Regions from separate parts of the Homo sapiens genome. Here regions 2 and 3 are each linked to region 1. The links come from fine-mapping of genetic effects on gene expression. A gene starts in region 1. Each other region holds a variant in brackets. All regions are shown on one strand. Distances are from middle to middle. Region 1 holds the start of CREB1 (cAMP responsive element binding protein 1). Region 2 has its middle 31 kb from the start of CREB1. Region 3 has its middle 74 kb from the start of CREB1.

What was found.
Region 2: its variant is fine-mapped to the expression of CREB1 in whole blood (INTERVAL, PIP above 0.99).
Region 3: its variant is fine-mapped to the expression of CREB1 in whole blood (INTERVAL, PIP 0.98).

What each region holds. Positions count from the first base shown.
Region 1 is chr2:207,526,402-207,534,585 of GRCh38, reverse strand. CREB1 (cAMP responsive element binding protein 1) reads right to left here and starts at 4,624. Exons shown (of 8, transcript NM_004379.5): 1 at 4,452-4,624. It overlaps LOC124907970 (a long non-coding RNA gene), which reads left to right and starts at 4,989. Exons shown (of 3, transcript XR_007088060.1): 1 at 4,989-5,150; 2 at 5,973-6,069. RefSeq lists enhancers at 1,906-2,405, 2,406-2,907, 4,496-4,595, 4,856-5,055 and silencers at 3,316-3,485, 4,196-4,245, 4,276-4,405, 5,076-5,255.
Region 2 is chr2:207,494,496-207,502,679 of GRCh38, reverse strand. No RefSeq gene overlaps it. Among named protein-coding and RNA genes, the nearest start is that of CREB1, 31 kb to the left of the region's middle. The variant A/C (reference allele first, on the strand shown) is at 3,494.
Region 3 is chr2:207,451,737-207,459,920 of GRCh38, reverse strand. No RefSeq gene overlaps it. Among named protein-coding and RNA genes, the nearest start is that of CREB1, 74 kb to the left of the region's middle. The variant G/TG (reference allele first, on the strand shown) is at 4,198.

The sequences.
Region 1 (8,184 bases):
GACAGCGTAATTCATCTTTGGATTTGTTGTAGCTTCTGACCCACTGTATTACATATAGTAATAATAAATAATTTAAAAAGTAACAGACCAGCTGGGCGTGGTGGCTCACGCCTATAATCCCAGGCATTCAAGACCAGCCTGACCAACATGGTGAAACCCTGTCTCTACTAAAAACACAAAAATTAGCCGGGCGTGGTGGTGCATGCCTGTAGTTCCAGCTACTAGGGAGGCTGAGGCAGGAGAATCACTTGAATCCAGGAAGCAGAGGTTGCCGTGAGCTGAGACTGCATCACTGCACACCATCCTGGGCAACAGAGCAAGACTCCGTCTCAAAAAAAAATTAAAACAAAAGAAAAAAGCCTTGTCAACACTTGAGCACTTGACACTTGCACAATGCCTGGGACTTAGTATGTATTACTTTATAGTTAACCCCCACAATTCTGAGGTAGTTGTTCTACACTGATCAGAAAGGAAAGTGAGGTATTAAGAAGTTAAGATAACTTGCCTAAGGGCCCACAGGTAGGAAGTTAAAATAAAGCTTAAGGGACTAGCTATCATTAGTTGTAGCCCTAAGGTACTTTATGTTTATCTCGCAATCTTATGAAATAAGTAGTAGTATTCTAATTTTACATATAAGGAAACTGAGGCTGAGAAAGATTAAGAAACTTCCTTCAGGACACAAAATTCCTTTAGGGTGGGTACAGGATAGCAGTGGCAATGCTTGGATTCAGACCTAGGCCTATGATTCCAAACCTCATGCTCTTTCAACTACATTCTCTGTCACAGTGAGTGCCAAATAAATATTTGAATTACCATAAACTGCTGTCTCAAGTGATACTGCAGTACAGATGAGTTTACACATGGGTAAGAAAAAAAAAAATCCTGCATTTTTCCATCTTGACATCTCATTACATTCTTAAATTTAGATTTGAGCTCTATTCAATAAAGAAGCCATCAAAGTTACACCATATATCAAGATATTTGCAAAACTATGTCACAAGCTGGCTGTAAACAAGTTTATGTAACTCATATCTGATAAGCTATTTATGGAATAAATGAAATTATAAATTTCGGTAATATATTGTAAGCATTAGGTTAAAAATAATTTTCTGTTATAAAAAGTAGAATTTAAAAACACGTGAGGAAGACATACTTGGTTTTACTATAACCCCATAACCATACTGTATCCAAACAAACAAAACCAAATGTCTTAGAATGAGAGAGAAATAAAGCTACTTCTCTATGAAGAACCCAAAATTTCTAATAATGAGACCTAATCAAGAATATGAGTTTCAGAAAGTAGAAAAAGGTGCCATTTTTATGGATCAGGTGTCTAAGTTTCTTCAGGCTCTTTATGTAAACAAAAAAAAAATCATTCAAAACAGGTAACACTTAAGTTTTAAATTCCCAAAGAAGTGTTCTTTTAACATTCTTCAAGCAAACTCTGTCAAGTAATTTATTAGCTTTCTAAATGTAGGTGTTCATGAAAAAAAAAAAAAGATTCAAGCAGATCCAGCTGTAATTTTTATCCATGGCTGGAACAGTGCAGAAGTACAATTTAGTAACATGTTCCAGGTGAATGTTCAAGTATTAATGAATACAAGTTTGAAGTTTCACCTGGAATTGCTAAGAATCACAAATTATGAATGTATAAATAATAAAACAGGCCGGGCGCGGTGGCTCACACCTGTAATCCCAGCTACTCGGGGGGCTGGGGCAGGAGAATTGCTTGAACCCGGGAGGCGGAGCTTGCAGTGAGTGAGCCGAGACCAGCCCACTGCACTCCAGCCTGGGCAATAAGGGCCAAACTCCGTCTCAAAAAAACAAATAAATAAAAATAAAAATAAAAAATACAATTTAAAATATCTCTCGGGCAAGACTAAAGAAAGAACTTATCAGTAAACTTTTTTTTTTTTGAGATGGGGTCTCGCTGTCACCAGGCTGGAGGGCAGTGGCGCGATCTCGGCTCACTGCAATCTCCACCTCCTGGGCTCAAGAGATTCTCCTGCCTCAGCTACCCTAGTAGCTGGGATTACAAGCACGCGCCACGACACCCAGCTAATTTTTGTATTTTTAGTAGAGACGGGGTTTCACCATGTTAGCCAGGATGGTCTCGATCTCTTGACCTCGTGAGCCGCCTGCCTCGGCTTCCCAAAGTGCTGGGATTACAGATGTGAGCCACCGCACTCGGCCATCAGTGAACAATTTTTTAAAAATCTCACAAATGAAGAGTCATATATTCTTTCTTTTTTTTTTTTTTCTTTGAGACGGAGTCTTGCTGTGTCGCCCAGGCTGAAGTGCATGGCACGATCTCAATTCACTGCAACCCCAGCCCCCCGAGTAGCTGGGATTACAGGCGCGTGCCACCACACCCGGCTAATTTTTGTATTTTTAGTAGAGATGGGGTTTCATCATGTTGGCCAGGCTGGTCTTGCACTCCTGACCTCAAGTGATCCGCCCGCCTCGACCCCCCAAGTGCTGGGATTACAGGCCTCAGCCACCGCGCCCGACTTATATTCTTAACAAGAAAAAAAATTCTACTCTACTGATAGTGGCTTGCGGAACAACATAAAGGAAAAATGGTAAGCTACCATTATCAATACTATAATTTTTTCAGTGCTCGGAAATAAAATCATTTCCCCAATCTTTATAGAAAACCTGCCTTTATTGCCTCTTCTTAATTTTCTTGGAAATGACAAATTGCCAATGTGGTCTTTTAAAGAGAAGCAATACAGCAAAGCACGTTTTGGAAAAGTGACTAGAATACAGAAAAATAAGACAGTGCTTCTGCTGCCAATCAATATTTGTTCTTAACCAGAAGGTTTGTACGTATCAATCACAATGCAATCATACAGTGACAGACAAGTATTTTTAAAACAAACTTGTTCGTCTTTTGCACCACCTAAAATAACTGTTCGGGGCTTTACTTTTAAATCACGAAATGAGCCATAAATGTAAAAGATTTCAATAGGCAGCAATCAAAAGTATCTTCTACTAAACCTTCAGAAGTTAGACGCCAGCTGAGGTTAGAATTATAACTTGAGATGGTATTACAAACTTAAATAGGTCATACCGCACGTCCTTCAAAAACTGTCTTTTAATTTTTAATGTGTCAATGACTTTTCTGCTGTCCTCTTTTCCCAACAGGCGAAGAAAAAATACAGCTTGTGGCTTAAATTGTCAATCTCAAGACGGGGGTTACCTACTGCATGAGACAAATAATGGATACTTTAATGTCTATTTTTAGTAGTAGTATTAAATCAATCTCTCATTAAAGTTCACACAGAAATTCGTGGGAAATATGGTAGGGGGAGTGGGACGGAGGGTGAGGGGAGATCCAGATGACCCAAACGCGGTTGGCAAGGTTGCACCCCGCGAAATGATGTAAAACAAGAGTACATCGGCTGATACTCGTTCCAACGAAGTGTTTCAGAATGATAGATCTCAAGTGATGATTACCTTATTAAAAAGGGTTAAAACCGAAACTGTTTTCAAACACCAGCTTCCCTTTTATAAGATCCCAACAGTTTAAAAAGTTATTATAAATGTTTTTCTTAGCACCCTTTCTCCCAAAAAGCATGCATTTCCATGACTGACTTTAAAAAAAAAAAAAAAGCAAAGGGGTGAGGGAGTCAAAAATTCCCCCCAAAAGCACAAGCTCTCATCTCTCAACTAAGCAACACAGGGCAGAAAGCAGCATTTCCTCAACGGTGTAGGAGCGGGGGGGAAAGGGCACGAATAAAATACAGCACGAGAGGAAACCTTGGGTTTCGAACTTTATTGCACAAAGAGTGGAGAGAAGAGTAGGTCAGACGTTGCAGCTCTTCCCCTTGCGAAGCGGGCATGGCAGGCACCGAAGCCACCGGGAAGGCAGCAGGCACCTTCACCTCCTCTGCCCTCAACTGTCGCCTTCTTCCTCCTCCATCCCCCACCGGCACCTAGGCGGCGGCTGCCCCGGAGGCCCGGCCGGGTCGGGCCGGGGGCGAGGCGGGCGGCGGGGGCCGGACGAGCGAGCGGCGCGGGGGGCAGCGCCGGGCCGAGCGGGCGGCCTCCCCCGGGGCGGCTCCGGGTTCCCGGCTCCGCGCCCGGCCCGGCGGCGGCGGCGGGAACGCGGGCGCCAGCTCGCCGCGGCCGGCCGCCCGCACACACCCCCGGCCGCCGGCTCCCACCCCGCCCGCCGCCCGCCGCCCGCCGCCCCCCGCCATGAGCGCCGCCGCTGGCTGCAGGCAGAGTCGCTGCCGCCCCGGCCGCCGCTGGCTCCAGTCCGCCGCCATTATTCTTTGTTCGCTGCGAGCGGCGGCGATGTTGTGGGGCTCGGGCGGAGGCTCCATCTTTACCGCGGCCCCTCCTGCGAGGGGAAGGCCCCAAGCGCGGGTGTCCGGCGCCTCCCCGTCCCCCCTCCGTCCCCCCGGCTCTCTCTGGCTCCTGCCTCCTCCTCCTGCTCCTCTTACCGGTGGTACAAGCTCCTCCGTCACTGCTTTCGTTCACGGCCCGGATCTCGCTGGAGTTTTATTCTCTCCCCCACGTAACACACCGCGTCAAACTACACCTCCGCCGCGTCACTCACCAACACTCCGCTTCTCCCAGCCGCCCGGGCCACAGGCAGCAGCAGCCGCCGCCGACTGAGGAGCCGCAGCCAGGGAGCCAGCCAGCGCCGCCCAGTGCCGAGTGCGCAGCGGCCGCGCACGGAAACAGCCGAGCTAGGCCCGGAGCAGCTCGAGCGGCCCCGCCCCCGCGCTGGGGACGGAACTTGCCGAAGACCTTCGGGTTTCTTCGGGCGACGAGAAGGGGTTCCGCGGGGAGAGGGAAGGCGAAGGCGGGCTGAGCCCGGCGCCGGGAGGAGTGGTCTAAACTCCACCGCGGCTTTCGCATCGGTAAAGCCGGCAGCGGAAATTTGAAGGAGGAAGCGGGGTTTGTGTGTGGCCCAGTGGGGGAATTCCCGAGGGGTGTCGGCGACTTGGTGGAAACCCCCGCTCAGGCCTGCCCCTGCGGCGGTGAGCGGCGGGCTAGAAGGCGGCTGCGGCTGCCCTGGCTCTGCTCTTGACCGCCGCCAGCCCCGGGAACTTTCCGACGCCGCCGGGAGACGGGGGACGGGCAGCCCGGGCTGGGACGCGGCCGGACCGCTGGAGCCGTGCGGGCTGGGGAAGAAGGTCTGCTGCGCCTCTGCCAACGTCCCGGGGCCTGGGACCCGGGGGCGTCGTGGGACCCCCGTGGGGACGGGTTTTCCTTTCCGAGACTCCGCGGAGAAACCTGGCGGCCGCCAGCGGAGCATGCTTTTCCGGGGGGCGCTGGCCCCGATACTGTGGCACCTTGCGGGGCTCTGCCCGGACCATGGCTGACGTCGACGGCCCTCGGAGGCCTCCAAGCCACACAACCTGCCCGGACCCCTGGAAATATGCCCCATCCTACCTCCCCGCCTTTCTCCAGACAACATCCTGTGTCGCTTTCTTTCCTCAGCCTGTTTTCTACAGCAGGGATTCGCACCCACTGCACCCTAAACCCAGCAGGGGGACTTCCGTGGCTGGAAACTACTGAATTGTTCTTTCAGAGGTCTCTCAGGACGGCACCACTAGGTCCCCATTCTCCTTGATAGTGAACTCTGCAGCCCTCTCCTTGGGGTTTCAAGTCTTTTTTTTTTTTTTTTTTTTTTTAATGAGACGGAGTCTAGCCCTTGTCGCCCAGGCTGGAGTGCAGTGGCACGATCTCGGCTCACTGCAACCTCCGCCTCCCGGTTTCGAGCGATTCTCCTGCCTCAGCCTCCCTAGTAGCTGGGATTACAGGCACCTGCCACCACACCTGGCTAATTTTTGTGTTGTTAGTAGAGACGGGGTTTCACCATGTTGGCCAGGCTGGTATGGAACTCCTGACCTCAGGTAATCCACCCGCCTCGGCCTCCTAAAGTGGTGGGGTTACACGTATGAGCCACCGCGCCCGGCCTCAAGTCTTAATCATTCTTTTTCTGTCCTTTAAAGGAGACGTGTCTTTAGGAAGCAGAGAGGGTTCGATTCTGGACTCCGCCCATGACTCACTTCTCTTGTAAAGAAAGAGTTGTCCTTCCTGGTACTCCAGGTACCCTACTGTTTTCTTATGGACTTTGCCCTTAACGAGTCTCCTTTCCTTCTGTTACTCTCAACCTTTCCTTCTCTACCGGCTCTTTCTTACTGGTATTTAAACATGCTTAAGTCTTTCAATTCTTTAAAAAGATTTCTCTTCTCCCTAAATTGCTCTCCAACAACTGCAGCTGTCTCTTACCCCATGGACAGTCTTTCATGTCCCACCTCCCAGCCCTCTCCAGTGTCCCCACCGCTCACCTGAAGTGGCTCTGAATTGTCCACAGACAAGCTTCATGACTGTAAATGCAGCGGATCATTTTCAGTCCTCATTTTACAAGCCCTCATCCCAGTATTTGACGCGATTGACCACAGTTGCTTCCAAATACCCTCTTCCCTCTGGTCTTATGTCCCAGGTTTCCTCCCTACCTGAGTTTGCTCTTTAACAACCAGCTCCTCCTTGATCTACCTCTTACACATTGGAATCATGCTGAGCTGAACCCTGGCCCTCTTACTGAGTCTCCCCATACACTTTCCTAGGTGGTCTTATGCTCTCCCAGCAGCATCAAATACCCTCTGTCAAAGACTCTTCAATCCATAACTCAAGCCTAGATCTTGCTCTGGAATCCTACATTCATAGTTCCCAGCATACTGCCTTTGGTACACTTTCATTTGGATGACTTAGGGCATTTCAAACTCAACCCGTATATCATAATTCCTTCAAAACGCTCCTCCCATAGTCCCTGGTTCAGTAAAGGGTATCTTAACATCTACCCAGTTCATGCCAGAAACCTAGCACACCTCCAACACACAGCAGAATCACCTACATCTGTCTGCTCCCTGGAAAATTGGATTTGTGACCTCTCTCTGTTCCCATGACCATTTTTTCATTCCCATTCTAGTCTAAACCACTGTTGCCTCTTGCTTGAAGTCCCACAGTAACCCATTCAGGTCCTCCAAAACTGCTCTTGCCTCGTTCCAATACATTTGCCATACTGCTGCCAGAGTAATTTTTTAAATATAAATCTGATCATTGACCTGCTTAAATTCCTCCAGTGGTCTCCCTTTGCTTACCACACATTGTCTAAGCTCCATTATCTGTACTTGTCTTTCTCTCCAGCCTCTCCATCTGTCCCCCTAGCTGCCTGCACTCCTGCCATAGTATTTTAATTTTTTCCAGGCTCTCCTCTTTTTATTCCCTACTGTAGGCTCTCACTTCAGGGCATTTACACATGCCCTTCCCTTCCCCTGGAATTTTTTTCTGTCACCCATTCCTCCTACTTAACTGTAACTTATCACTTTCTTTTCCAATTCCTACTTCTCATTATTTGTTTAGTGTCCATGTAATTGTGCAGGTAAGGACCACGTCTGTCTTGTTCACTACCAGCTTTTCCTCTCCCTAGCAACAGCACAATGTCTAGAATATAGTGGTACTTGTTAGGTATTTATCGAATAAATAGTGAATTTCTGAGTGGTCCCGGGCAAAGTTTTCTCAACATTTGAATTCAAATCCTGGCTCTCAGTGAGTTCAGGTTGCCGTAGTAAAGTACCATATAGACTGGTGGCTTATAAACAACAGAAATGTATTTCTCATAGCTCTGGAGGCTGGATATCTGAAATCAGGCTGCCAACATGGTCAGGTTCTGGTGAAGGCCCTCTTCAGGGTTGTAGATGGCTGTTTTTTCCCTTTACCTCACAATGCAGAAAGAGAGCAAGAGCTCTCGGGTTGCTTTTATAAGGCACTAATCCCATTCACAAGGGGTTTACCTCCCAAAGGCCTCATCTCCTAATACCATCACATTGAGGGTGAAGATTTCAAAAATACGAATTTGCAGGAGACAGGGGTGGGGGTGAATTCATTGCACTGGCTCAGCCACTTATTAGCTAATGACTTTGGGCAAATTGTTCACTCTTGTGCCTCAGTTTTCCCATCTGTAAAATAAAGATGATAATAGCACCTCATAGTGTTATTGTAATGATTACGTGACATAATACATGTGAAGTATACTTGGAACAATGTTAGGAAAAATGTTGCCTATTACTAGCTTTTACTTGGATAGCTTATCCTCGTGTCAAATACGTTTTCAAAATTGAGTTCATCTTCCTGCTCTTCTTACCGTGGCTCTATACATGA
Region 2 (8,184 bases), 32 kb after region 1:
AAATATAGTTTAAAGCACTTGGCATGTAGACATGTAGTAAGTATGCCATGTAGCTTTTACTATTCATAAGCCTGAATTTTTGCCTCAGTATCCCTGCCCAGAATCTGGGTCTTCCCTGTAAATGGATGCTGCCTCCCAATTCTCTAGCCCCACACAGGATTTTGCCAGTCCCCTCTCTTGCTGTTCCTGGCACACTCCACCTTTCATTTCGGGTTCTGCTAGCACCACTCAGAACTGTCACCTGCTTTCCTTTTAGCTGTTTGCACTCCACTTGCCAACGTCATCTCCACCCTGAGATTGTCATGTCCTTATGATTATGTGCTTTGACCTATCTACCAAGTGGCTCATGGCTGAGCCAGCCTCTGTATCCATTTCCCATAACCCCATTCTCTCTGGTCCTGGTTCCATCCCATCAGCTTGTGTGCGTAGAATGGTACCCCATATTTCCTGCTTCCTTTAGCATTTAGGCTTTTTATACAGACTCATTGACCTGTGGCAACTCTAGATTTTTCTCTCTAGAAATGTATTGGGTTGGAAAGGGGCAAGTGGATAAGCTTGTTTTGAAGCTGCAGTTGCAGAGCAAGATTGCTGGTTTAGGTTTTGTTTTTAAATTTACGTCATAGGCTTACTTGGGTTGGATTTTAGGGGAAATTATCTGTGCACGTGGGGCCGTGGTCACAGGCCAGTTGGATACAACTTCCCAGCATCAGTCCTTCACTCAGCAAATTGTTACTGGTTTTATGTGGGCATTGGGACCTGTGGTTGTCTATCTGAGGTTTGTTGGGTGGTTTGCAAGCAGTGGTTGTCAAGTTTTCAGTGATTCCCTATGTGTATTTTCCGTTGCTGTATACCTCAAACTTAACAGCATCAAATAACACACATTTATTATCTCAGAGTTTCTGTAGTTTTTAGACTTTTAAAATTGCAAAATGATACAAGCTCATTATAACAAGTTTAAACATTGAGAAGTTTACAAAGTACAAATGATACATATGTCCTCCTTACTCCCCTCTATTCTGACTCTCCCCAGAAATAACTACTGTCAACTGTTAAGTGTATCCATTCCGATTTTTTCTATGCTTAGATGAAGACACATTCACACTCATGCACCCACTTTTTTCCCCACTTTTTTTTTTAAAACAAAACAAAACAAAACAAGAATGGCTCTTACTTAAATTAGGCAGGACTCTTGTTTGCAAGTGATAGAAATGCTGTGTGAAATATCTTAGGCAAAAAGAGGAATTCACTGCCAGAAGAATTTAAATCACAGGACTCTCTCTCTCTTTTTTTCTCTGCTTCTGTCAGATCAGCACTGTCCACAAGCTAGAACTGTGGTCACCAGGAGCTGCCTAGCTGACACCCTCAGGCTTCCCCATACGGAGAGCTTGTTCCTCTGCCTTCTTTTCTACATAAAATATTCCCAAGGAGGTCTTCAATTGGCCTCATGTATCATGGGCTGGGTGCAGTGGCTCATGCCTGTAATCCCAGCACTTTGGGAGGCCGAGGCGGGCGGCAGATCACCTGAGGTCGGGAGATCGAGACCATCCTGGCTAACATGGTGAAACCCCATCTCTACTAAAAATATAAAAAATTAGCTGGACGTGGTGGCACATGCCTGTAATCCCAGATACTCAGGAGGCTGAGGCAGGAGAATTGCTTGAATCCAGGGCGCGAAGGTTGTGGTAAGCTGAGATCGTGCCATTGCACTCCAGCCTGGGCAACAAGAGTGAAACTCCATCTCAAAGAAAAAAAAAAAGTACCTTTGCTGCAAGTAACAGAAAACCCAATTAAGAGTGACTTAAACAATAGGGGCTTATTCTTTTCACAGAACAAGATATCTAGAGGTAGTTGGTCATTATGTGGCTCAGTTGTGCCTGCATTCTGGGTCAGCTTCTCTGAAGCTCTCTAGGTCTTGCCCCCTGGTTGCCACATGGATAAGGCAGCTCTAAACACCATGTCCTCACTTGACAATGTCTTTCTTTTTTTCTTTTTTTGTTTTGTTTTCTGAGACAGGGTCTCGCTCTGTTGTTCAGGCTGGAGTGCAGTGATGCAATCACAGTTCACTGCAGCCTCAGCTTCCTGGATCAAGTGATCTTCCTGTCTTGGCCTCCCTAGTTGCTGGGACTATAAGTGCACACCACCATGCCCAGGTAATTAAAAACATTTTTTTAGTAGAGACAAGGTCTTGCTATGTTGCCCAGGCTGGTCTTGAACTCCTGAGTTAAAGTGATCCTCCCAAAGTGCTGGGATTACAGGCATGAGCCACCAGGCCTGGCCAGCAATGTCTTTCTTAATGTGGCTTCTCTCAAAAGCAAATTCTGAGACAAAAGCTTGTATGCACTGACTTGGGGAGGTGACTGCAGGGCGTAGGGGCAGGGATCAGGGCGGGGAGTGGGGGAAGCAGGGAAAGAGGGGCGGCTAATAGAAAGGTTCATTACTGAGCTGGACAGTGCCGTGAGTAACTGGTGCTAGATTTTGCTGGGACCTCCTGGGGGGCCTTGTGCAATGCATCTCAGAACTGTCAACCTGGGGGATCAAAGAGGGAAGCATTTTTCTGTCAATACTCACTCCTCTAACTAAACAATATAAGAAGGAACATAATTTCCACTTAGTGTTTATAAATATGTAGTATACATAGTTCATAGCTGCATAGTATTTTGTTATAAAAGTGAGCCTATTCTTTTGTTAATGGACATTTAATTCACAGCCCTGGTTTTTATCAAGTTGCTATAAACATCGAAAGGGGCGTGACTTTGGTGAGGGGGTCAATACCAGGACTGAGGACTCCTGTTTTATCCCATTTCAAGACTTTGGCTGGGTGAGGTGGCTAATTCCTATAATCCCAGCATTTTGGGAGGCCGAGGTGGAAGGATCACTTGAGTCCAGGAGTTCAAGACCAGCCTAGGCAACATAGCAAGCTCTTGTCTCTAGAAATTATTTAAAACTTAGCTGGGCATGGTGGTGTGCACCTGTGGTCTCAGCTACTTGGGAGGCTGAACTGGAAGGCTGCTTGAGCCTGAGAAGTCGAGGCTGCAGTCAGCCGAAATTGTGCCACTGGACTCCAGCCTGGGCAACAGAGTGAGACCACCATCTCAAAAAAAAAAAAAAAAAAAAAAGAAGACTTTGGCACATTAAAAAATATAGCAATATTTCATCTTGCTAAAACAATTATTTCACACTAACCTATTCAGAACAAAAATAGAGAAGAGGTAAAAATAGTTTCTAAGTAGCCAAATAGATGACAGACAGTCATGCATTCCAGATGGAATGGGCAGTCCTGCCTGCAGCGTCACTCTGGTTTTGTCTTAAATCTCATACACTTCACTTGTAAGTATCTTGTATCTTTATTAGGATCTCACTTTACCTCATTTTACTTACAAGTTTAACTAGATTGGTATCCTAGTTACTATTTTCCATAGCAAAGGAGAAGAGGAAGGAAGTTGTTAAAGGAAGTCACACTGACAAAACCAAAATTTAAAAAGTGACCACTGAC[A/C]ACCACAGAGGAGGGAAAAACAAAACAAAATAAAACAACAGCAACAAAAACCTTTTAAAAATGACATAAATATGCAAAGAAGATTGGCATTCTATCTGCTCTACAGAACTGTAAAAAACTCTGAGGTTCACAGCCAGAAAGAATGGTTAAAATTGCACTCAGAGTACTCTCTAAGAGGCAAGGAAATGAATAATTTATTCCATGCTATTATATCTTTTCATGCAGTATTGACTCGGTATGATTATTCTTTTTCTGTAATATATTTTAGAGAGATTTCCCAATAAGTAGGTTTAAAATGATGAAAAAAGTTGATTCTCGCTTGAACCCAGGAGGCGGAGGTTGCACTGAGCCGAGATTGCTCCATTGCACTCCAGCCTGGGCAACAAGAGTGAAACTCCATCTCAAAAAAAAAAAAAAAAAAAAGTTGATTCTCAAAGCTCTAGGGAACTTCACTTTCCAAACAACCATTTTCCATGGACTTTTAGCCAAGAAATTTCCTCCAGCAAGACAGGTGGGGAGCCATGGGGAATGGCTTCTCTGCCCCTCTGCACGAGGGGGCGGTGTCTACCAGCCTCCTCCTCTAATTTAGGCCAGCGGTGTCCAGTCTCAGGAGGGCACTTTGACAATCACCTTCAGCCCTTGCGTGGTGATGGCTTCAATTGGGGAGGCAAATGTAGAGTCTTTCCTCTGCCTTCCTAGAAATTTCTGGACATGTTAGAGGTGAGCTAGAATGCAAAGGGTAAGAAAATAATCCTTTTTCAGGAAGAAAGGAATTTGAGAACTTCTTCTACAAAAACTATAAATAACACACGTGCCATTCATGCCTTGTGTAGTTTGTTTTATTATTAGTAAACAGTAATATCCCAGCAGTGACATCAGCTAACCAGAATATTACTTTGTGTGTGTGTGTTTGTGCACTCACGTGTGTGCAAGTGCTTGAATTTAGCTAATAGTGTGGGACAGATCCTTTTTTTGGCCTTGTTCGAGAATCTTGTAGTCCATGCACCAATCCTTATATCTCTAGTGTTATTACTGTTATTAACTCTGTCACTCCATTGTGTCCATTCACTGTCTTTTCTTCTTCTATTTGTCCTTTTTCTTTGTTTTACGTGCTATGATAGACACAATAATGACCCCCAAAAGGTGTCCATGTCCTCACAACCAGAGCCTGTAAATGTTATGTTACATGGCAAGGGGAATTAAGGTTGCAGATATACTTAAAATTGTTTATCAGCTGGCCTTAAAATAAGAAGATTATCCTGAGTCCTTAAGTGGATAAAGTAGAGGCAAAAGAGTTAGAAACAGAGAAATAGCATTGTGAGAAAGAACTGCTACTGATGAATTTGAAGATGGAACAAGGTCCCAAGCCAAGGAATGTGGCAGCTGCTAGATGCTGGAAAAGGCAGGAAAACAGATTCTCCCCTAGAAGCTCTAGGAAAGAACACAGCTCTGCTGACACCGTGGATTTAGCTCAGTGAGACCTATTTAGAACTAACCTCTAGAACTGTAAGACAACACATCTGTGTTGTTTTAAGCCACTAAGTTTGTAGTAATTTGTTATACCAGCAATAGGAAACTAATACACATGCTTATAAATTGCATTTAAGAAGTATTTTCCAGCTGGGTGCAGTGGCTCACGCCTATAATCCCAGCACTTTGGGAGGTTAAGGCGGGTGGATCACCTGAGGTCAGGAGTTCGAGACTAGCCTGGCCAACATGGTGAAACCCCGTCTCTACTAAAAATACAAAAATTAGCTGGGTGTGGTGGTGGGCACCTGTAATCCCAGCTACTTGGGAGGCTGAAGCAGGAGAATCACTTGAACCCGGGAGATGGAGGTTGCAGTGAGCTGAGATCACGCCACTGCACTCTAGCCGGGGCGACAGTGACTCTGTCTCAGAAGAAAAAAAAAAAAAAAGAAGTATTTGCCGCCAGATGTGGTGGCTGATGTCTGTAATCACAGCACTTTGGGAGGCCGAGGCTGGTGGATCACTTGAGGCCAGGAGTTCGAGACCAGCCTGGCCAACATGGGGAAACCCCCGTCTCTACTAAAAATTACGTAATAATTAGCCGGACGTGGTGGCACATGCCTGTACTCCCAGCTACTCGGGAGGCTGAGACATGAGAATCTGTTTGAACCCAGGAGGTGAAGGTTGCATTGAGCTGAGATCGTGCCACTGCACTCCAGGCTGGTCAACAGAGTGAGTCTCTATTTCAAAAAAAAAAAAAAGTATTTACTTTGTGCTTAACATTGTGCATGGGGGAAGATACAAAAGTAACGTAAATGTTGTGACACCTTCTCACAAGCTGTTGATATTTCAGAAGATGAAATAGGATTTTATTTCTGTTACATGCCATTAGCTATCATGTGATGCTCATAGTTGCCTAGGTAAATACTAATTCATCTAGTCATCTACATTTATTGATTGCCTTCTCTGTGCCAGGCATTGTGCATACAAAGATAAGCAAGATATAATGATGAACAAGATATGGTTACTTAATATAAACCAAGAAAATTCTTCATGTCCACTACCACCCAGTCAGCTTTTCCTGCAGTCTTCTCCCAATCACCCAATTCCTTAAACTCCAAATCTACAAAATAGAGCTGAGGTTTTCAACCAGTGGTGTCTGTGAGCGTCATTGCTGTGGTGGGCATTATGTGGCAGATAAAAATACAATACCTGGATCTGTCATAGTAAAATTGTGAAATGTTCAGAAAGAAATCACAATGAAAGTAGTATATATTAAAACTGTGGAAAGCAGCCAAAGTGGTATCTGAATAAATATGGAGCCACTCTCTTTTGTTGTTAATTTATTATTGTATCATATCATAATCAAACAACATGGTATCACCCATATGAAATCAAACATTTTTTAACTTGCTGAGATTTCTTTTGTGGCTTGTTTTTTTCTAAAATTTTCTCACTCTCTAAAGCAAGGTAAAGAATTATATAAGGAGCTTTTACAAAAAGATCTATAGCAGTAGTCTGCCAGAAAAAAAACTCAACAAGTTAAAAAATGTTTGATTTCATATAGGTGATATGTTGTTTGATTATGATGTAATACAATAATAAATTAACAACAAAAGAGAGTGGCTCCATATCTGTACATTTGGAGACTAACAAAGCACATCCCTATGTAATTCTCTGGATAAAGAGACAGTCAAAATAAAATTGTGAAATGTTCAGAATGAAACCACAATGAAAGTAGTATATATCAAAACTGCGGAAAGCAGCCAAAGAGGTATCCAGAAGGAAATTTGTAGGCTTGATTTTTTATTAGAAAATGAGAAAGATTCAAAATAAAGTACTCAACTCAAGATAGAAAAGGAACAACAAAAATAAATCCCAAAGAGTAAATGAATTTACAGCAGATTAAAGATAAAAGCAAAATTAATGAAGCAAAACAACCTTCATAGAATTGGTTAATAAAACCAAAAGTTTGTTTCTTGAAAAAGATGAAAAAAGCAAACAAACTTTGGTTGTGATAAACATACAGTATTAGCATTAGTGGTAGTAGCAGTAAGGAAGCATGTATATAATGCTCTGTGTCAGAGACATTCTTTACCCACCAGAGATGTGTGTGCATCCATACCTTTCCAGTCATTCTTGGTTGAGTTCGATGCTGGTGATTGAGCTACAAGAGGAGTGACACGTGCCATATCTGAACCAAACCATTTACAAGCCTGTGTGCAATCCTTCAGCTCCTGTCTTTCTCTGCAGCTATGATTTGGAAAGCCATGTGCTGAGACAGTGAAACCATTGGATGGATGCCTCCTGGTTTATTGAGTTCCCAAAGAGAGGACAGATGCTAGGGAGTGCCCAATTGCCATAGCACTCTGTGTGAGCAAGAAATTCAACTTTGTTAAGTCACTGGCTTTTTTTTTTTGTGAGATGGAGTCTTGCTTTGTCGCCCAGGCTGGAGTGCAGTGGCACGATCTCGGCTCACTGCAACATCTGCCTCCCAGGTTCAAGCGATTCTCCTGCCTCAGCCTCCTGAGGAACTGGGACTACAGGCATGTGCCACCATGGCCGGCTAATTTTTGTATTTTTAGTAGAGTTGGGGTTTCACTATGTTGCCAGGCTGGTCTCAAACTCCTGGCCTCAAGTGATCCACTTTGGGACGCCTTTGCCTCCTGAAGTGCTGAGATTATAGGCATGAGACCCCCCACTGGCCCTCACTGGCCCATGTTTTAATGTAGCATAGCCTCTCTTATCCTGATTAATTCATATTTTGTAAAATGTGTTCTTTCGAGAGTACCTCTCAGTTATTAGATAAATACCTATAACTTAACAATTTAATTTTAAAGTTAAAATGTAGGAAGAGAGTAGAAAAGGAAAGATAAGCCGAGCTCTTCAAAGTTCATTATTTTTCCTGTTTGTTGACAGGCAAACGTACTGAAGTCCCAATCAGTTACAAAGACCTAATAGGCCACATTATGCGCATCCACAAATACATATATACCTGCAAGTCTGTAGAAAAAAAAGAGTTTCCAGCCACCTCTTGTATTGTTTTCTGTTTAAAACATTTTTCTTAATTTGTTAATTCACTGTCACTTTAGAAAGATAGTAAGACGAAAGCATCAGCTCTTTCTAATCTCTTACTTCAATAAACTATCATTGTGCTTTATCACAATTCACTCATTACAGCATATTTCCATCAAAATAAGAGAATGAAAATAAAACAAAACCAA
Region 3 (8,184 bases), 75 kb after region 1:
TAATTCTAGAGGGCAGCCAGTCAAGATTTCTAGATGCTGGACTTAAAGCCTTTCCAGCTGGAGCAGGGGCAGGCAGTGATGATCTGACAGATTTTCCTTGTTTACAAAAGTTTGCTTCAGGTGTTCCAGTGAGCTTTCTGAGTAGTCCATATAGCAGCAGGCCCGAAGGTTATCTCTACATAGCTGTTGTAGTGATTTCTCTGAAGTCTGTATCAAGCCATCTAATTTCACCTTGCAGGGCTTCAGAAAAAGGGGTGCTTTAATTTTTAGTGATTCCAAGCCAGAAGACTGGGATAAAAATTGGAAATATTCGTTTGGTGAGTCATAGCCAGATATTGGAAGAAACTAGAGAAATTCAGGATCCAGCACAGATTTCAGGTGGATAACAAACTCTCAAAAACAATGAGCTAGCATCTAATACTGGGTGCACTATACTTTTCTTCTGAAACAAAATTTTTCTCTCTATAGTCACCTTCATCTCTATCAAAGATAATCAAAGTAAAACTAATTTGTTTGCAAAATAAATTTAGTTTCATTAAACTTGACCTGATTATTTATACAAGTTCAGCAAGAGTAGTGATTGGCCACATAGGCTGTCTTTAAATTTGCTTTGCTGGAACGTTTTATAAGGAATCTCAGATTAGACATTGAAAAGCCTCTTGAGGCCAGGAGGCCAAGCTTAAGATTCACCATTAAAATTCACCTGAAGTGGCTGGGCATGGTGGCTCATGCCTGTAATCTCAGCACTTTGGGAGGCTGAGGCGGGCGGATCACAAGGTCAGGAGTTTGAGACCAGCCTGGCCAACATGGTGAAACCCCGTCTCTACTAAAAATACAAAAATTAGCTGGGCGTGGTGGCGGGCGCCTGTAATCCCAGCTACTCGGGAGGCTGAGGCAGGAGAATTGCTTGAACCTGGGAGGCGGAGCTTGCAGTGAGCCGAGACTGTGCCATTGCACTCCAGCCTGGGGGAGAAGAGCGAGACTTCGTCTCAAAAAAAAAAAAGAAAAAAAAAATTCACCTGAAGTACTTCTAGATTTTGCTGAATTCCTCTCTGCTTTAGGTCCCCAAAATATCCTGAGGTTCCTGGTCCTGCCAGGAGGTGACATTCTTTACCTACCTCTAAGGCAACCATATGAACGATGCTTTCAAAGTACCAGGCCAGTTTATCCAAGCGCGGGCTTTATTGGCTCCATAAAGTCAACCTTAGTTCTTTAAAGTTGTCTGTCATATTTGAAAATAGAATATTCCAGTCAAAGCCTTGGTAAGGTAACATAACCAGTATTTCCAATTGTGCCCTGTTACAAGGAGAACAGATTTTTATTAAACTAGTATAAATAATTATATTGCCATAAAAATAAGAATACTCACAAATAGTTTCTGAGTCCTAGCAGGATCAGGTAGGAAGAAAAAGTAATTGTTCCAATTCTGTTCACAAAAGTATATGCTACCAGATCTCTGCAAGCTCTAGAAAGCTTAAGAGAAATAGTTTCTTTAAATCTGTAAAAGGAAACATTTACAATAAGAACCAAATTTCAAATTTAAAAATTTCAAATTAAAAGTCATGAAAACATTACCTTCATCAGTTCAGTTTCACGTAATTAATTCTTGATCTGCTTGATCTTGCTTGGCAGTTTCATGAAGCCATTCATTTCTTCATTAGAGTTCTGAAAATTCTCACACAGTCCAATGGTATGATCTTATGGTTATTAGAAACCTGTATTCAAGGGTATTTGTCAAAGTCTTTTCTATGAATCTTTTCGAAGAAAAGCAGTTTTGGACTATCGCTGATTGCCAATACTTTTAGACAAAAATCAAAACAGTAATGGCCTGTAGATGACAAAGACTTAATATGGCCATGGTTAAAAATCTGATGAGAGTTCATTATAGTCAGCAGTTGACAAGGAAATTTAGTTATTTCTGTGGATACAACATTTTAACATAATTGCCAGAATTGTTACTGATAACATTAGACTTTTAAAAATCTCACATTTTCATATCAATAATACGCTCCTAAGTATAACTCTAGGTTTAGCATTACTCATTATTTGACCACACTTACTATATAATTTAATGCATCAAATATATGTAAGCCCAATTATTTTAATATCTTTCTTTTACAAGGTGAGAAAAACACATATTTTGTAGCTTTCAAGAGGCCTAACTGGTAAATCTCAAAGTAAGTTCAAGGTCAAAAAGACTTAATTTAGAATTTGATTTTGGGAAGTATGTCAAAATGTCAAAAGGTTTAAAAAAATTAAATATGATATTGGCTATCTAATTAAAGTGACAGTTTTAAATAGAAAAACAATTTTCTATTTTTTTTAACATTTTTTTAGAGACAGGGTCTCACTCTGTCACCCAGGCTGGAGTGTAGTGGCACAAGCATAGCTCACTGCAGCCTCAAACTCCTGGCTTAAAGCAATCCTCTCACCTTGGCCTTCTGAGTAGCTGGGACTGCAGGCATGCGCCACTGCACCTGGCTCATTTATTTTTATTTTTATTTTTGTAGAGATGGAGTTTTGCAGTATTTCCCAGGCTGGTCTTGAACTCCTGGGCTAAAGCAGTCCTCCTGCCTTGTCCTCCCAAAGCACTGGGATTACAGGTGAGCCACTGCACCTGGCCGACAACAAAAGATTTTAAAGGCAAATACAAAAGGTTGCATAGTTGTGAATAAAATGTAATCAAAGACCTAATAAAATACAGCATGAAGCCCAAAAATGATCTTGATAAAACACAAAATCTTTGTTTTCTAGGTCAGTTACTGAAAAGGAGAAAAAAAAAACCTTCACATTCTCAGACCAATACTTCTAGAAAACTTTGTTACTTTAACAGAGAAGACCAAATTCCACTTTTGCATTAGCGTACTATTAATACTAAAGCTAATTTTAAATAAAATCTTTTAATAAATTCATCCAATCTTAGTTTTGATCACAAAAGATAACATTTCCATAAATCATTTAAAACTTAAAAAAAATTCAGCCTTTTTAAAAAACAAAAATGTGTCATTTACATAACTTTCCTTATCAAATGCATCTTATTTCTAAGCAAAGAAAGTTTTCCCTCATATTTTCTGGCAGTTTAATTACATATGTTAATTATAACGTTTAACTCTTAGTAACCTTATTTCTTTTTTTCTTTTTTTTTTTTTTTTTTTTGAGACTGAGTCTTGCACTGTCGCCTGGGCTGGTGTGCAGTGGCGTGATCTCAGCTCGCTGCAACCTCCGCCTCCCAGGTTCAAGTGATTCTCCTGCCTCAGCCTCCCAAGTAGCTAGGACTACAGGCACGCGCCACCATGCCCGGTTAATTTTTGTATTTTTAGTAGAGACGGGGTTTTAGTATGTTGGCTAGGCTGGTCTCAAACTCCTGACCTCGTGATCAGCCGGCCTTGGCCTCCCCAAGTGCTGGGATTACAGGCGTGAGCCACCATGCCTGGCCAGTAACCTTAATTTCTAGTGAAAACTAGCAAGCATTATAAACTCTTTTATAACAGCATTCATCATTTCATAATTTCTAGAAGCAATTTTTCATGTTTTTAACCAACTTCAATCTATTTAGCTTCTCTGTACTATATAAAAACAAGATGCCAAAGTACATAAACTTGTGCCTAGTAATTAGTGTTTCAATATTTTTAACTTACTTAGAAGTGACCCAGATATTTAATAAGTATCTATTACTTAATTTCATTTTAAGGTTTCAAGTTACCAAAAAGATTTTAAAACTATTTTTAACTAGACATATTTTCTAAAACATAATTGTTATTGAAAAACTTTGCTTATAAACTATTATCCTACTTATATTCATCTAATTCACTCATTCTTTTTTTTAAGTTTCAAGTTTTAATTTTTGTGGGTATGTAGGTGTCTATATTTATGGGATACATTAGATACTTTGATATAGGCATGCAATCCATAATAATTACATCATGTAAAATGGGATAGCTTTCCCCTGAAGCATTTATCCTTTATGTTACAATCCAATTATGCTTTTAGTTATTTAAAAATGTACAATTAAATTATTATTGACTACAGTCACCCTGTTATCAAATACTAGGTCTTACTAATTTTTTCTAACTTTTTTTGTACCCATTAACTCTTCCCACTTCCCTACAAGCCCCCTTCCCAACCTCTGGTAATCATCCTTGTACTCTCTATCTCCATGAGTTCAACAATCGTTTTAATTTTTTTTTTTTTTTTTTT[G/TG]GGGACAGACTCTCGCTCTGTTGCCCAGGCTGGAGTGCAGTGGCACAATCTCGGCTCACTGCAACCTCCGCCTCCTGGGTTCACACCATTCTCCTGCCTCAGCCTCCGGAGTAGCTGGGACTACAGGTGCCTGCCACCACGCCCAGCTAATTTTTTGCATTTTTAGTACAGACGGGGTTTCACCGTGTTAACCAGGATGGTCTCGATCTCCTGACCTTGTGATCCACCTGCCTCAGCCTCCCAAAGTGCTGAGATTACAGGCGTGAGCCACCACACCTGGCCAATCATTTTAATTTTTAGCTCCCACAAATAAGCGAGAACATGAGTTTGTCTTTCTGTGCCTGGCTTATTTCACTTAATACAATGAGTCCCAATTCCATCCATGTTGTTGCAGATAACGGGATTTCATTCTTTTTTATGGCTGAATAGTACTCTATCATGTAAATGTACTACATTTTCTTTATCCATTCATCTGTTGAGGGACACTTAGGTTGCTTCCAAATCTTAGCTATTGTGAACAGTGCTGCAATAAACATGGGAGTGCAGATATCTCTTTTTTTTTTTTTTTGAGATGGAGTCTCGCTGTGTCTCCCAGGTTGGAGTGCAGTGGCGCGATCTCGGCTCACTGCAAGCTCCGCCTCCCAGGTTCATGCCATTCTCCTGCCTCAGCCTCCCAAGTAGCTGGGACTACAGGCGCCCGCCAACACGCCTGGCTAATTTTTTGTATTTTTAGTAGAAACGGGGTTTCACCGTGTTAGCCAAGATGGTCTCGATCTCCTGACCTCGTGATCCGCCCGTCTCGGCCTCCCGAAGTGCTAGGATTACAGGCGTGAGCCACCGCGCCCGGCCCAGATATCTCTTACATATCCTGATTTCCTTCCTTTTGGGTATATACCTAGCAGTGGGATTGCCTGATTGTATGGTAGCTTTATTTTTACTTTTGTGAGAAACCTCCAAACTGTTTTCCATAGTGGTTGTACTAATTTATATTCCCACCAACAGCATACAAGGGCTCCCTTTTCCCCAAATCCTCTCCAGCATTTGTTGTTGCCTGTCTTTTGGATAAAAGCCACTTTAACTGGAGTGAGATGACATCTAATTGTAATTTTGATTTGCATATTCCTGATGATCCATGATGTTGAGCCATTTTCATATGCCTGTTTGCCATTTGTATGTCTTCTTCTGGGAAATGTCCATTCAAATTTTTTTTCCCGGCCAGGCGCAGTGGCTCACCCCTGTAATTCCAGCACTTTGGGAGGTCAAGGCGGGCGGATCACCTGAGGTCGGGAGTTTGAGACCAGCCTGACCAATGTGGGAAGCCCTGTCTCTACTGAAAATACAAAATTAGCCAGGCATGGTGGCACATGCCTGTAATCCCAGCTACTTGGGAGGCTGAGGCAGGAGAACCTCTTGAACCCAGGAGGTGGAGGTTGCAGTGAGTTGAAATGGTGCCATTGCACTCCAGCCTGGGCAACAAGAACGAAACTACATCTCAAAAAAAAAATTTTTTTTTTTGGCCAATTAAAAATACGTATTCATTTAGTTTTTGAGACAGGGTCTCACTCTGTCACCCAGGCTGGTGTGTAGTGGCACAAACACAGCTCACTATAGTCTTGACCTCCCAGACTCAAGTGATCCTTCTGTCTCAGCCTTCCGTGTAACTGGGACCACAGGAGTGTGCCCCCATGCTTGGCTATTCTTTTTTTATTTTTTTTTAGAGACTAGGTCTCACTTTGTTGCCCAGGCTGGTCTCACACTCCTGGGCTCAAGCGATCCACCTGCCTTGGCCTCCCAAAGTGCTGTGATTACAGATGTGAGCCACCATGCCCAGCCTTGCCCATTTCTTAATTGGATTGTTAAATTTTTGCCTATATAGCTGTTTGAGCTCCTTATATATCCTAGTTATCAATCCATTGTCAGATGGGTAGTTTGCAAATATTTTATCCCATTTTGTTGGCTGTTTCTTCACTTTGTTGAGTGTTTTCTTTGCTGTGCAGAAGCTATTTAAGTTGATGTGGTCCCATTTGTCCATTTTTGCTTTGGTTGTGTGTGCTTGTGGCGTGTTACTCTTAGATTTGCCCTTTTGAGGCTATTTTCTAGATCTTGTAGGCATGCTTCATTCTTTTTTATTATTTTTGTCTTTTGTCTCCTCTGTGCATTTTCGTGTAGGCTGTCTTCAAGCTTACTAATTCTTTCTTTTATTTGATCATTTCTGTTGGTAAGATACTCTGATGCTTTCTTCAGTATGTCAATTGCATTTTTCAACTCTAGAATTTCTGCTTGGTTCTTTTAAATTATGTCAATCTCTTTGTTAAGTTTATCTGATAGAATTATGAATTCATTCTCTGTGTTATCTTGAATTTCTTTGAGTTTCCTCAAAGCAGCTATTTTGAATGCTGTGTCGGAAAGGTCACATATCTGTTTCTCCAGGATTGGTCCCAGCACCTTATGTAGTTCACCTTATTTAGTTCATTTGGTAACTCACTCATTCTTTTTTTTTTTTTTAAAATAACTAAGTGCTTTTATTTTATTTTTTGATTTTTTTTTTTTGAGACGGAATCTTGCTCTGTCATCCAGGCTGGAGTGCAGTGGTGCAATCTTGGCTCCCTGCAACCTCTGCCTCCCGGGTTCACATCATTCTCCTGCCTCAGCCTCCCGCATAGCTGGGACTACAGGTGCCCACCACCATGCCCAGCTAATTTTTTGTATTTTTAGTAGAGACGGGGTTTCACCATGTTAGCCAGGATGGTCTCGATCTCCTGCCCTTGTGATCCGCTAGCCTCGGCCTCCCAAAGTGCTGGGATTACAGGCGTGAGCCACCACGCCCAGCCAGTAACTCACTCATTCTTAACAATTTTATGTGAACTGTTCATGACAATTTTATGAGACATCAAACAAAGCTAACCTCTGTCTCAAGTTGTTTTTGTTGTTGACAAATCAGGCAAGCAAAATATCATAGAAGCAAAGAAACAAGAAAGTTAAACATGGTTCTTTCCTCTTTTTTTTCTCCGTGACTGATGTGCATCAAGCAATTCAGGAATTCATTTTTACTGTGTATTCTGTTTGAAGGTTGCGTTTATAATTTTATGACCTTAACCATCTAGCAGAGACAATACACCTGTCTGGCCAGCAAACGCAGGCAAAAATATATGTCTGTATTATATTTAATGACATAAACATACAGATAGAAGCAGATCTTACATCTTTTACTCTAACACTTTTAGCCTTGCACCAAGTCTGATAATTCAAGACTCACTAGCTAGACCTGATAAATGATACAAGTTAAGATTATCTGCTCAGATGGCTAAAGCTTTTTTTTTTTTTTTTTGAGTTGGCGTCTAGCTCTGTCACCCAGGCTGGAGTGCAGTGGTGCAATCTCGGCTCACTGCAACCTCCGCCTCCCAGGTTCAAGCGATTCTCCTGCCTCAGCCTCCCTAGTAGCTCGGTCTACAGGCGTGTGCCACCACGCCCGGCCAATTTTTTGTATTTTTAGTAGAGACGGGGTTTCACTGTGTTAGCCAGGATGGTCTCGATCTCCTGACCTCATGATTGGCCCGCCCTGGCCTCCCAAAGTGCTGGGATTACAGGTGTGAGCCACCACAGTTGGCCTGGCTAAAGCTTTTTTACTAGTTTTTTTGTGGAAAAGGCTTTTAAGATTTTTTATTTGACCAATTTCTAAACAGTTCAGTTTTTTTCTTTTTGATGACAGTCATCTCCCTGACAGTCATCTCTTCTGTATCTATGGATTCTGCTTCTGTGGATTCAACCAATCAGGAATTGAAAATATTGTTTTAAAGAGCACGCATCTCTACTGAACATGGACAGACATTTTTCTTGTCATTTTTCCCTAAACAATATAGTATAACAACTACTTACATAGCATTTACATTATATTAGGTATTATAAGTAATCTAGAGATGATTTTAAGAATATGGGAAGATGTGCATAGGTTATATGAAACTACTATCTTATTTTATATCAGGGACT